Regions from separate parts of the Homo sapiens genome. Here region 1 is linked to region 2. Evidence: fine-mapped expression QTL. A gene starts in region 2. The other region holds a variant in brackets. All regions are shown on one strand. Distances are between the middles of the regions.

Region 1 (4,513 bases), 44 kb before region 2:
GCAGCACAGAAGCAGAGACAGGGAAATGTGCAACACTACAGTGTGGAATTGGGCCTAGAGACCAGAGAGAGTGGGAAACTTTGGGAGTGAACGGGCCAAGGGGAGGACATGGGATTGAGGGAGGGGAAGTGAGAAGCAGGAATCCTGGCACTTCCTGAGGGTGCACAGCCTGTACCATCCTCCAAATGCCTCCACATCTCTTTTCTCATTTCATCCTCACACAATTGTGTGACACAAGACAAGTCTTTCAATCCCATTTGCAAGTGAATTAAGAGCCCTAGAGATGTAATTTTCTAAGATTATAAAGTTAATGTTTTAAAAAATTTAGAGCTCAAACCCAATTTATGAGGTTCTAAGACCCATGTTCTTGTCCATCTCACAGGTAAACTGGCAATGAAGGAGAGAGAGACCCAGAGGAGTGGCCATGATAATTCACCACTATGTTTCCAGAGCATTGCACATAGTGGGTGCACAGCAAATATAGCTTGGATGAATGAATGAGTGAGTAATAATGATAATGATCATGAGGGTGATAATAAAAGTGGTTAATAAGTATTGAGTGTGAAGAATTATCTCATTTAATTTTCAACCATATGTGGTAGATCATATTTTTAAACCCATTTTGCAAAGGTGGTTTAGAAAATTCAGTGGTCCTTGAGTCTAGCCAAAAGGCCTTGCAATGAAGCATGAAGGGCTGAAAGAAAATGCTTGACCAAGCAATGCTTTCCCGGAGGCAAAATGCAGAGAGTTGCTTGATTGTGTAATAGGAAACTGAGCCTGTAACCCAACCCCTGCGTCCTGAGTTTATACCTAGATTCCTGGGCCATGTGGTTCAAATATTTAGAGAAATTCTAAGTAGCTGGCTGTACCTGTGAGGTCCACATGGGACGCTGTGAGGGAGAACTTGCTCTCCTCACCATCACCAAGTCCCAAGGCTGCAGGGCCCCAGTGCTGGGCCCTTCCTTCCTGCCTTCCTCCTCTCTTCCTGTGCTAGTTCAGCCCTGCATTACCCTTCCTTGGGGCAAAGGTTTGCTCTCTTACTTCAGTCTGCCCAGCACACCCCAGCCAGGGTGATCTGCTGAAGAGCAACTCAGATTATTGCACTCTCTCGCTCAAAACTGCTGGGTCCCCACCTCTCCTGCCCCCCATACCTAGGAGCAGACGGTCTCAAACTAAAGGCTGTATCAGAATCCCCTAGAGCACTTGTTAAAACATAGGTCTAGGGTGGGGCTAAGAATGTGCATTTCTTGCAAGTTCCCAGGTGATGCTGATGCTGCCGGTCCAGGGACCACTTGGAGAAGCATAGCTTTAAATGAAAGCAAAAGGCCTCGACCTGGCATTTAAGCACTTTTATACCAGGTGCCAGTCCACATCTCCTTCATTTTCTTCTTTTGTGAATCACTGTATGCACACTGGGCTGTTATTAGGGTTACCAGGTATGTTCCTGCCTCCACATGTGCAGTGTCTCTGCCTAAAATACCTGCTCCCCGTCCACCCTGCCACATTTTCCTGTCCCCCTCCAGCTTCTCTGCGCATCCTTATCTTACCCACTCTGCCAAGTCCACCTGCCATGGGAAGCCTTTTCTGACCTCTGTTAGTGGTACAAGCCCATTCCTTGCCTGCTCTTGGAATAGTTTATTAGTTCTTTCTCGTGCCTTTCAATCTCAAATTCTGTTCCTATGTATCTATGTAGTATATGCCCTGCTAAAATATTGGCTACAGAGACGCAGGGTGGCAGGGTGGTTGTATGCACAGGCTTCGGACCCTGGCTGAGCTGTTTTCATGTCTCACTTCTGCTGCTTGCTAGCTGTGTGCACCATCACGGTCAACTCAGGCTCCCAGGTTTTGGTTTCCTCATCTATATAGTGAGAGAAATTCATGCTGCCTGTGATGGTTTTAAGACACAT[C/T]TGCAAATTCTTTGATACTCCTTCCCCCAAATGAGGGCTGGCCTTTGAGACTCACTGGTAAAAAATGGAATGCCGTGGAAGTGACACTCTGTGTTTCTGAGGTGAAGTCATAAGAGGCTACACAGCTTCTGCTAGACCCTCTTGGGATGTTCTTGCTTGGAGCCAAGCAGCCACCTGGAGACCCCACACAGCCTTTCCAGCTGACAGTCCCAGCTGAGGTCCCAGCAGATGGCACATCCACAGTGAGTGGGTGAGCCTGGAGAGAACTTCTGCCCTCATTGCCCTCTGACCACAGCTGAGGGAGAGCCCAGACGAGCCTATTCTACCCCAGGACCACGAGGGTACATGATGAAATGACTGTTAGAGTGATTTGTTCTACAATAGATTCCTGAGACACTACTCTACATGCTTATTTCAAAGGTTAAATGAGACCATGAAAGAATTTATTGTACTACCTGGTGCACTGGGAGTAGAGGGAGGACCTTGTCGCCCATGTGTTCAGCCGCCCAACAACCTAATCCACAAAATGTTAGGTTTTGCCTCTACACCCTCTTCCAAGTTGCCTACTGTGTCATCCAGATATTCAGATCCCATGGCCTGTGCCACAGGTTTCTCCCAAAGCTCAGAGGCAGTAGTTCACCTTGATGACTTGGTCCTAAGGAGATGTAGGTGCAAATGGGCTCCTCCTAAGAGGATGTGTTCAGAGGCTGTGCAATGGTGCTGGGGCTCTTAGCACAGGTGTGCTCTTCCTCTCTGCTCTTCACCCAGCTCCCTAGACAATTACTGGGAACCCTTGCCCTCTGTATGGTCCTGGCTGTCAAAGGGCCACTGCAGTTTCATGGTGTGGAGGCTGAAAACAATGGTTCCACATTCCTTGACATTCCTCCCCTGGAGAGGTAGGCTATGTCCCCTCCCCCCGAATCTGGGCTCCACCAAAGAGCCTAGGGACGTGACCTGGACACTTCAGCCTTCATCTCCTCTAATAATCTCTCTTGAGACTCTCTCCTGGGCCCCTATCGATTACTGTTTCTTAAACTGAACTAATAGGGTGTGTGTGTGTGTGTGTGTGTGTGTGTGTGTGTGTGTGTGTGTACAGAGAGATCTACCTTAAGGAATCCACTCCCACAATTGTGGATACCAGCAAGTACAACATCTGCAAAACAGGCTGTCAGGCTGCAGATCTAGGAAACAGCTGGTGCTGCAACTTGAACCCAAACACAGTCGGGAGGCAGAATTCCCTCTTCCTCAGGGTACCTCAGTCTTTTTGCTATATGACCTTCAACTGACTGGGCGAGGCCCCCCACATGATAAAGCATGATTGACTTTACTCTGAGTATACTGATTTAAATGCTCATATCATCTAAAAATGCCATCACAGTGACAGCTAGGCTGGTGTTTGACCAAATATCTGCTATGGCCTACCCAAGGTGACACATAAAATATTCCATCACAGGCCCTCTCTTTTAGAATCCAGCGACCATGCTATGAGCCGCCTAACCAGGCAAAAAGGTGAGGAGGAGGAACTGTGGTCAGCACTCCAACAGGACCCAGCCTCCCAGCTGTCAAGCCCAGGCATTGAGTGACAGCACCTGCAGAAGGCCCTGCTCAGCCCCAGCCCTCAGCATCACGCCTGACCACTCAAGTCTTTCCAGCTGAGGCCTTAGAGACTGAGGAGGGGAGGCCACCCCCTTTCATCCTGTTCAGACTCATGACCCACTGAATTCACAAGCACAATGAAATGGGGGTGGGTTTATGGCACTACATGTTGGGATGGTTCAATACACAGTAATACATAACTGGAATACTAAATCTTTAGCAGAAAAATTCTCATGTAGCCCTCATATGTAGTCAAAGGAGAATTTTACAGGCATGGCTAAAAGCCACAGCTCCCCAAACAGTCCTCATTAAACCAAATTATATGACCTCTCGCTTCTTCCCATCTCATCTTTCTTTGTTTTTCTTTCCCAGAAATGAAGCCTTCTCTGAACCAGTCCCAAGAAGTCTCAACTTTAAAGCATTAACTCCCCCAATGAACTTGCTTTCATTTCATCTTCTCATATGTCATTGCATTCTCAACAAACCAGATCTATAGGATGGATCAGTCGAAGCTTACAAAGAAATCTAATTAGGTATGGAATATGAACTTTTTATTTGATAAATAACTTAGCTGGAGATACATTGAGAGTTACTCTATTAGAATAAAAGAAAGAAACGTCATAATTGCTGGAGTTCATGAGTGATTCTCTCTGTCCATGGGGCTGTCTTGTGAATGTTATGGGTTAGCCCTGGGATGGCCTGCAGCCAGCTGCCATGGAGGGCACTGAGAACCCACACACAAATAGTGAAGTTGCTTTGCAGGGAAACACATTTGTTGAGGAAGGAGAGGGAGAAACAGAGCTGTTTGTTTCCTACTCTGCACTGCCCAGACTGGTATAAAAGAGGAAGGCTCACTTTTGTTGAGGGGAGGGAGGATAGGGCAGGAAAACCTGGCTTTCTCGCCACATCCTGAATGCAGAAGAACTCGTGGTTCACCTGCGTCCTTCTCTGGGAACGAATATTTGGGAAATGAGAACCTTGGCACACCTCTAACATGTAGAAACATCCAC
Region 2 (4,000 bases):
GGCTGCCAATGGGGCAACTCTGAGGGCCATGTCACCCTTCCCAGGCCAGGAGGAGTCTGGGATGAACCCCACGTCTCTGTGCTTCCCCCAGGTCAGTTGCACCCATAACTCAAAGACCGAGGTTCCTCATTCCAATCCTCTCTCCAGCCCTCCGGGGAGGGGGCAGCACCATTTCCCAGAGCGGCGCACTGTGACACCTCCGCGCTCATCCCACCAATCAGTCAATAACTGCCCAAACCAGAGACCTTACAGGAACAGAAGAATATCCAGCAATAAAAACTAGAAACATGCCCCATGACTTGCGGGGGGGGGGGGGGGTCAGTGTGCAGACACAGCCTCAGGGACTTTTCATCAACGACGAACATTCCCAATTGCCTTCAGTCTGTGTCCTTAACACTTAGGCAGTCCGCCACGACCCCAGGCTGCCCAGCTTCTCCAGCCCGACTCAGCTGCGCTGGTCCTGCTCACACCAGCGCACAGTCCAAGCCAGCTAGGACGCCGGGGCCACGTCTGCACCAACCCAGCCAAGGGCTCGAGGCGCGCTGGGCCTGCACAGCCCGCGGCTGCAAGAGCACTCAGAGTGTCCTTCAACTCTTTGCAGGAAACTTCACAGCCAAGGAAGCTCAGCGGCCTGAGCCACAGGGTTTTGTTTTGTGTGTTCAGAGGCAACAGTTTATTTTGGTTTGCATCGGTGTCCTGTGACAGCGCAGCGAGTTTCTCTTCAGCGAAAGAAAAGAAAAAAGCCCTCTCCCAGTGAAACGGGACACCACGGTTCCCAGTGGCCCAGGGCCTTGGAGATTGAACTTTGCTGCAGCTCTCATTCTGGGGCAAAGCGCTTGGCCAGCTGGTGACAAAAGAGCCTGTCTGCAGGTGTGTTTGGGGAGCTGGGGAGGGGGCGTGTGAGGCTCGGAGGGTCCCTGGGCCTCTCTCAGGTGAACCCGAGAAGAGACAGGAAGACAGCGGCTGGACGCGCGCCCAGGTCCGCGTCGCTGCGGACCGCGGAGCTGTGCAGAAGCGCGGCCTGGCGGGTGGCACAAGCCCGACAGCTGCGCCGCGCAGCCCGCCCGCGCCTGGCCAAGAGCCCCGCGAGGGTGTGGGGAGAGGATCGGCTTCGCAGGGAGCGGAGGCTGCGCGGCTGCATCGGACCTCACAGCCTCAAGTCGCGGCATGAGGCGAACTTTGCAAAGCGCGCTCTCGCCATGCACCGCCCGACCTCCAGCACTGTGCGCAGCAGGACCTCGGAGCCCATTCGCCTGTGGAAACCGAGCCCGCAGCGGGAAGGCAGTGGGTGGAGGGTGGGCAGGCAGGGGTCTGGGGTCCGCGGCTCCCCACCCTCGCGCCTTCCCGCGCCAGTCCCGAACGCTCTCTTGGGGCGTTCCTGCCCAGTTGTCCCGGCTGACCTCGCTCTGCAGCCAGCTTGAGGTCAGGCGGTCGCTCTCTGCAGGTCACAAACCCTCGGCGCAAAAGTAGGGCTTTGAACGCGACACCGCACCAGAGCGCCCAGCTAAGCGAGCTGCCTCCACCCCCACTGTGTCGGGCGGCGCAAACTGCGGGCGCAGGCAGAGGAGCCGCGGCTCTGCGCCGGGCGGGAGCCGAAGCCCAGAGCCTCGCCAGGGCCTCCCCGCCGAGCGCACTTACCGTCGCTGAGGCAGAGCGCGGTCAGCACGAGGACCAGCACGACCACGACCTTGGCGTTCATGGCGCGGGCGGGCGGGCGGGCGGGCGGACGAGCGCGGGTCGGGGGCCGGACGCCGAGCGGGCAATGCGGCTGACGGAGAGTGAAAGTGCGGCGGTGGGAGGCGCGCGCCGGGCGCTTTAGAGGGGAGAGCCAGGCGGGGCGGGGCGGGGCGCGCGGTGAGGGGCGGGCCCGGAGCCGAGTGCTGGCCGTGGCCGGGGTCTCTGACGCGCGACTCCCTCGGCGGCACCCCCCACCCATCCCCTTCGCCCCTCCTCCGCTCCCTCTGTGCTCCCGAGGCGCAGTGCGCTCCGGCCTTTGACCTTCTCAGGCTCCGCTGGGCCCCGCACCGCTGGCCCGGTCTGCAGTGAGGTCCGCAGCCTGAGCGACGCCGGCTGGAGGGCCGCTTATTGTCCCTGTGACAGGGCCCCACTGGAGAGACTGAGGACCTTAGGCGTAAAGTGGGGCGCGCGTGGAAAGCTGCGGGACGGGGCCTTTCGATGGCGGGAACTGAATGAGAACCAATGAAAAGCAAACAAGTTAGTCCCGGGCGGAGGGCCTGCTGGCGGTGGCGGCCCAAGGCAGCCGAGGGGGTCCTGCTTTCTGTGCGTGGGGGCTCAAGCTCGCCACCTGCCCGGCTTGCGGCGCAGCCGCCGGCAGAGCTCGATCTGCGGGAATGAGACCCGTCTTTGCAGTCAGCGTGGCTCGGACTCCAAGCCCACGGCGCCACCAGCCGAGCCTCAGTTTCCTCGCCTGTACAAACAAAGCAGAAGGCGCCGGCGGCTCTCAGTAAAAGCGAATGTAGCCTTTGTACTTCCGACCTCTCAATGGTGAAATGAGCTAATCACAGGCCCACCCCGCGGAGTGGGACGGGAGATTCAATGAGACCCGCCCCACGCCGCGAAATTCTCTGCATCGTGTCTGACAAGCAGACAGTACTCAATAAATGGTAGCTGTAAGTAAGTCCTTTAAACCTAAGTACTTACTGCCTTACCCAAGAAAAGCTCCGTGCGACCCAAAGAGCTGAGAACTCCCCCACCCCGACCTCCGACTCCTAGGACAGTACTACTGGCGTCTGCCTTCTGGGTCCAGAAAACTCTTCCCACGGAGCCGTCCCTCGGCGGTGCTTAGCCCTCCGGATACCCCCGAGACATCCCAGATGGCCCCAGTCCGGTGGCGAAGGGAGGGTGCAGGTCGGCACCCAGGAGACGTGGGGGTGAGGAGAGCGCCCCTTTGGGCCTCGCTTTGTGACCGCAGGCTGCCCCAGCCACCTCTCTGTGTCCTTCCCAGCACAGCGTCCAGCGAAGTGGGGTCAGTCGCCGCGTCCATCCAGGGGCCTGCCCTGGGGACACGTCCCTGTCCCTGGGGAGTCCTGGCCGTCGGGGAGTGGGCGGTCAGCGGCTGCATTAGGCGGGAGCGGTCAACAGGAGGCTGCGAGGGCTCCGGAACTCCGCTGGTGGGAGTAGGTGTCTTCTGTGCATTTTTTTTCCAAAACCACTTTGGCCGTTAGATGGCTGTGGGCCGGCACTCCATCCATCCATCCATCCATCCATCCACCCACCCACCCACCCACCCACCCACCCTGGGCACTGGGCTTGGAGCCGGGAACCCCACTGACTTGGCCCTGCTCTTAAAGAACTGAAGGCAGTGAGGTCCAGTGAAGAAGGCAGCCGTCGGGCGTCCCCAGGCCTTTGCTGGGCTGGGCCGGGGAGCCTGGCCGCTCACCGGCCGCAGCGCTGGGGCTCCGGCGCCCTCTGGTGGCGGCGCCTCCCTCCCCGCTCCCAGAGCTCTGGCCAGCTCCATTCCTGCGCAGCTGATGAAACCCGGGAGGGCGAAGGGGTCCGCGGGAAATCTACACCCGGGTGGAGGGGCGCCCTGGAGCTCGGAGATCCGACCCTGCGGGAGCCGCGCGCAGCCTCGCTTGCCCTTAAATCTGGCCAAAGCAAACGCCATCGCCTCTCGCTTCTTCTTCTTCTTTTTTTCTTTGCCACAAAATCAGGTGGGCAGCTGGACCTAGGATCTGTCCCAGAAGCCTGAAAGGCCCGCGTGGGCTGAGTCGAGGGCGAACCAGGGATTCAGGCCTGGCCGCTGCCCCTCCCGCAGGCGCCCTGAGGCCCCAGAACAGAAGCTACTGTGGCACCCATGGGGCCATCCCTTCCGCTAGTCGTTCGTTAAATACTTACTGAGCACCCACTATGTGCTAGACCTGGGCTACATGTTTGAAGTAGTTTAGAAAAGGCACTAAACGTTTAGAAGCACATGGCGCTAAGCATAAGTAATTACGCATAAAATACTTAGAAGGCCATTAAATGCTAGGGGAAGATG

Which allele goes with the higher level. Positions count from the first base shown, and alleles are read on the strand shown. Sizes are in standard deviations (SD) of each study's normalised expression.
With allele T in place of C in region 1, the expression in pancreas of the gene that starts at base 1,791 in region 2 is higher (small effect, 0.31 SD a copy in GTEx).

What was found. PIP is the estimated chance that this variant, and not a neighbour inherited with it, causes the effect.
Region 1: its variant is the best candidate, but not a certain one, in a credible set for the expression of CXCL12 in pancreas (GTEx, PIP 0.53).

What each region holds. Positions count from the first base shown.
Region 1 is chr10:44,338,608-44,343,120 of GRCh38, forward strand. The region is part of intron 1 of LOC124902544 (a long non-coding RNA gene); the gene reads right to left. Among named protein-coding and RNA genes, the nearest start is that of CXCL12, 44 kb to the right of the region's middle. RefSeq lists an enhancer at 1-161. The variant C/T (reference allele first, on the strand shown) is at 1,908.
Region 2 is chr10:44,383,307-44,387,306 of GRCh38, forward strand. It overlaps CXCL12 (C-X-C motif chemokine ligand 12), which reads right to left and starts at 1,791. Exons shown (of 3, transcript NM_199168.4): 1 at 1,639-1,791. The coding sequence starts at 1,699. RefSeq lists enhancers at 1-40, 41-734, 735-1,426 and a silencer at 3,320-3,529.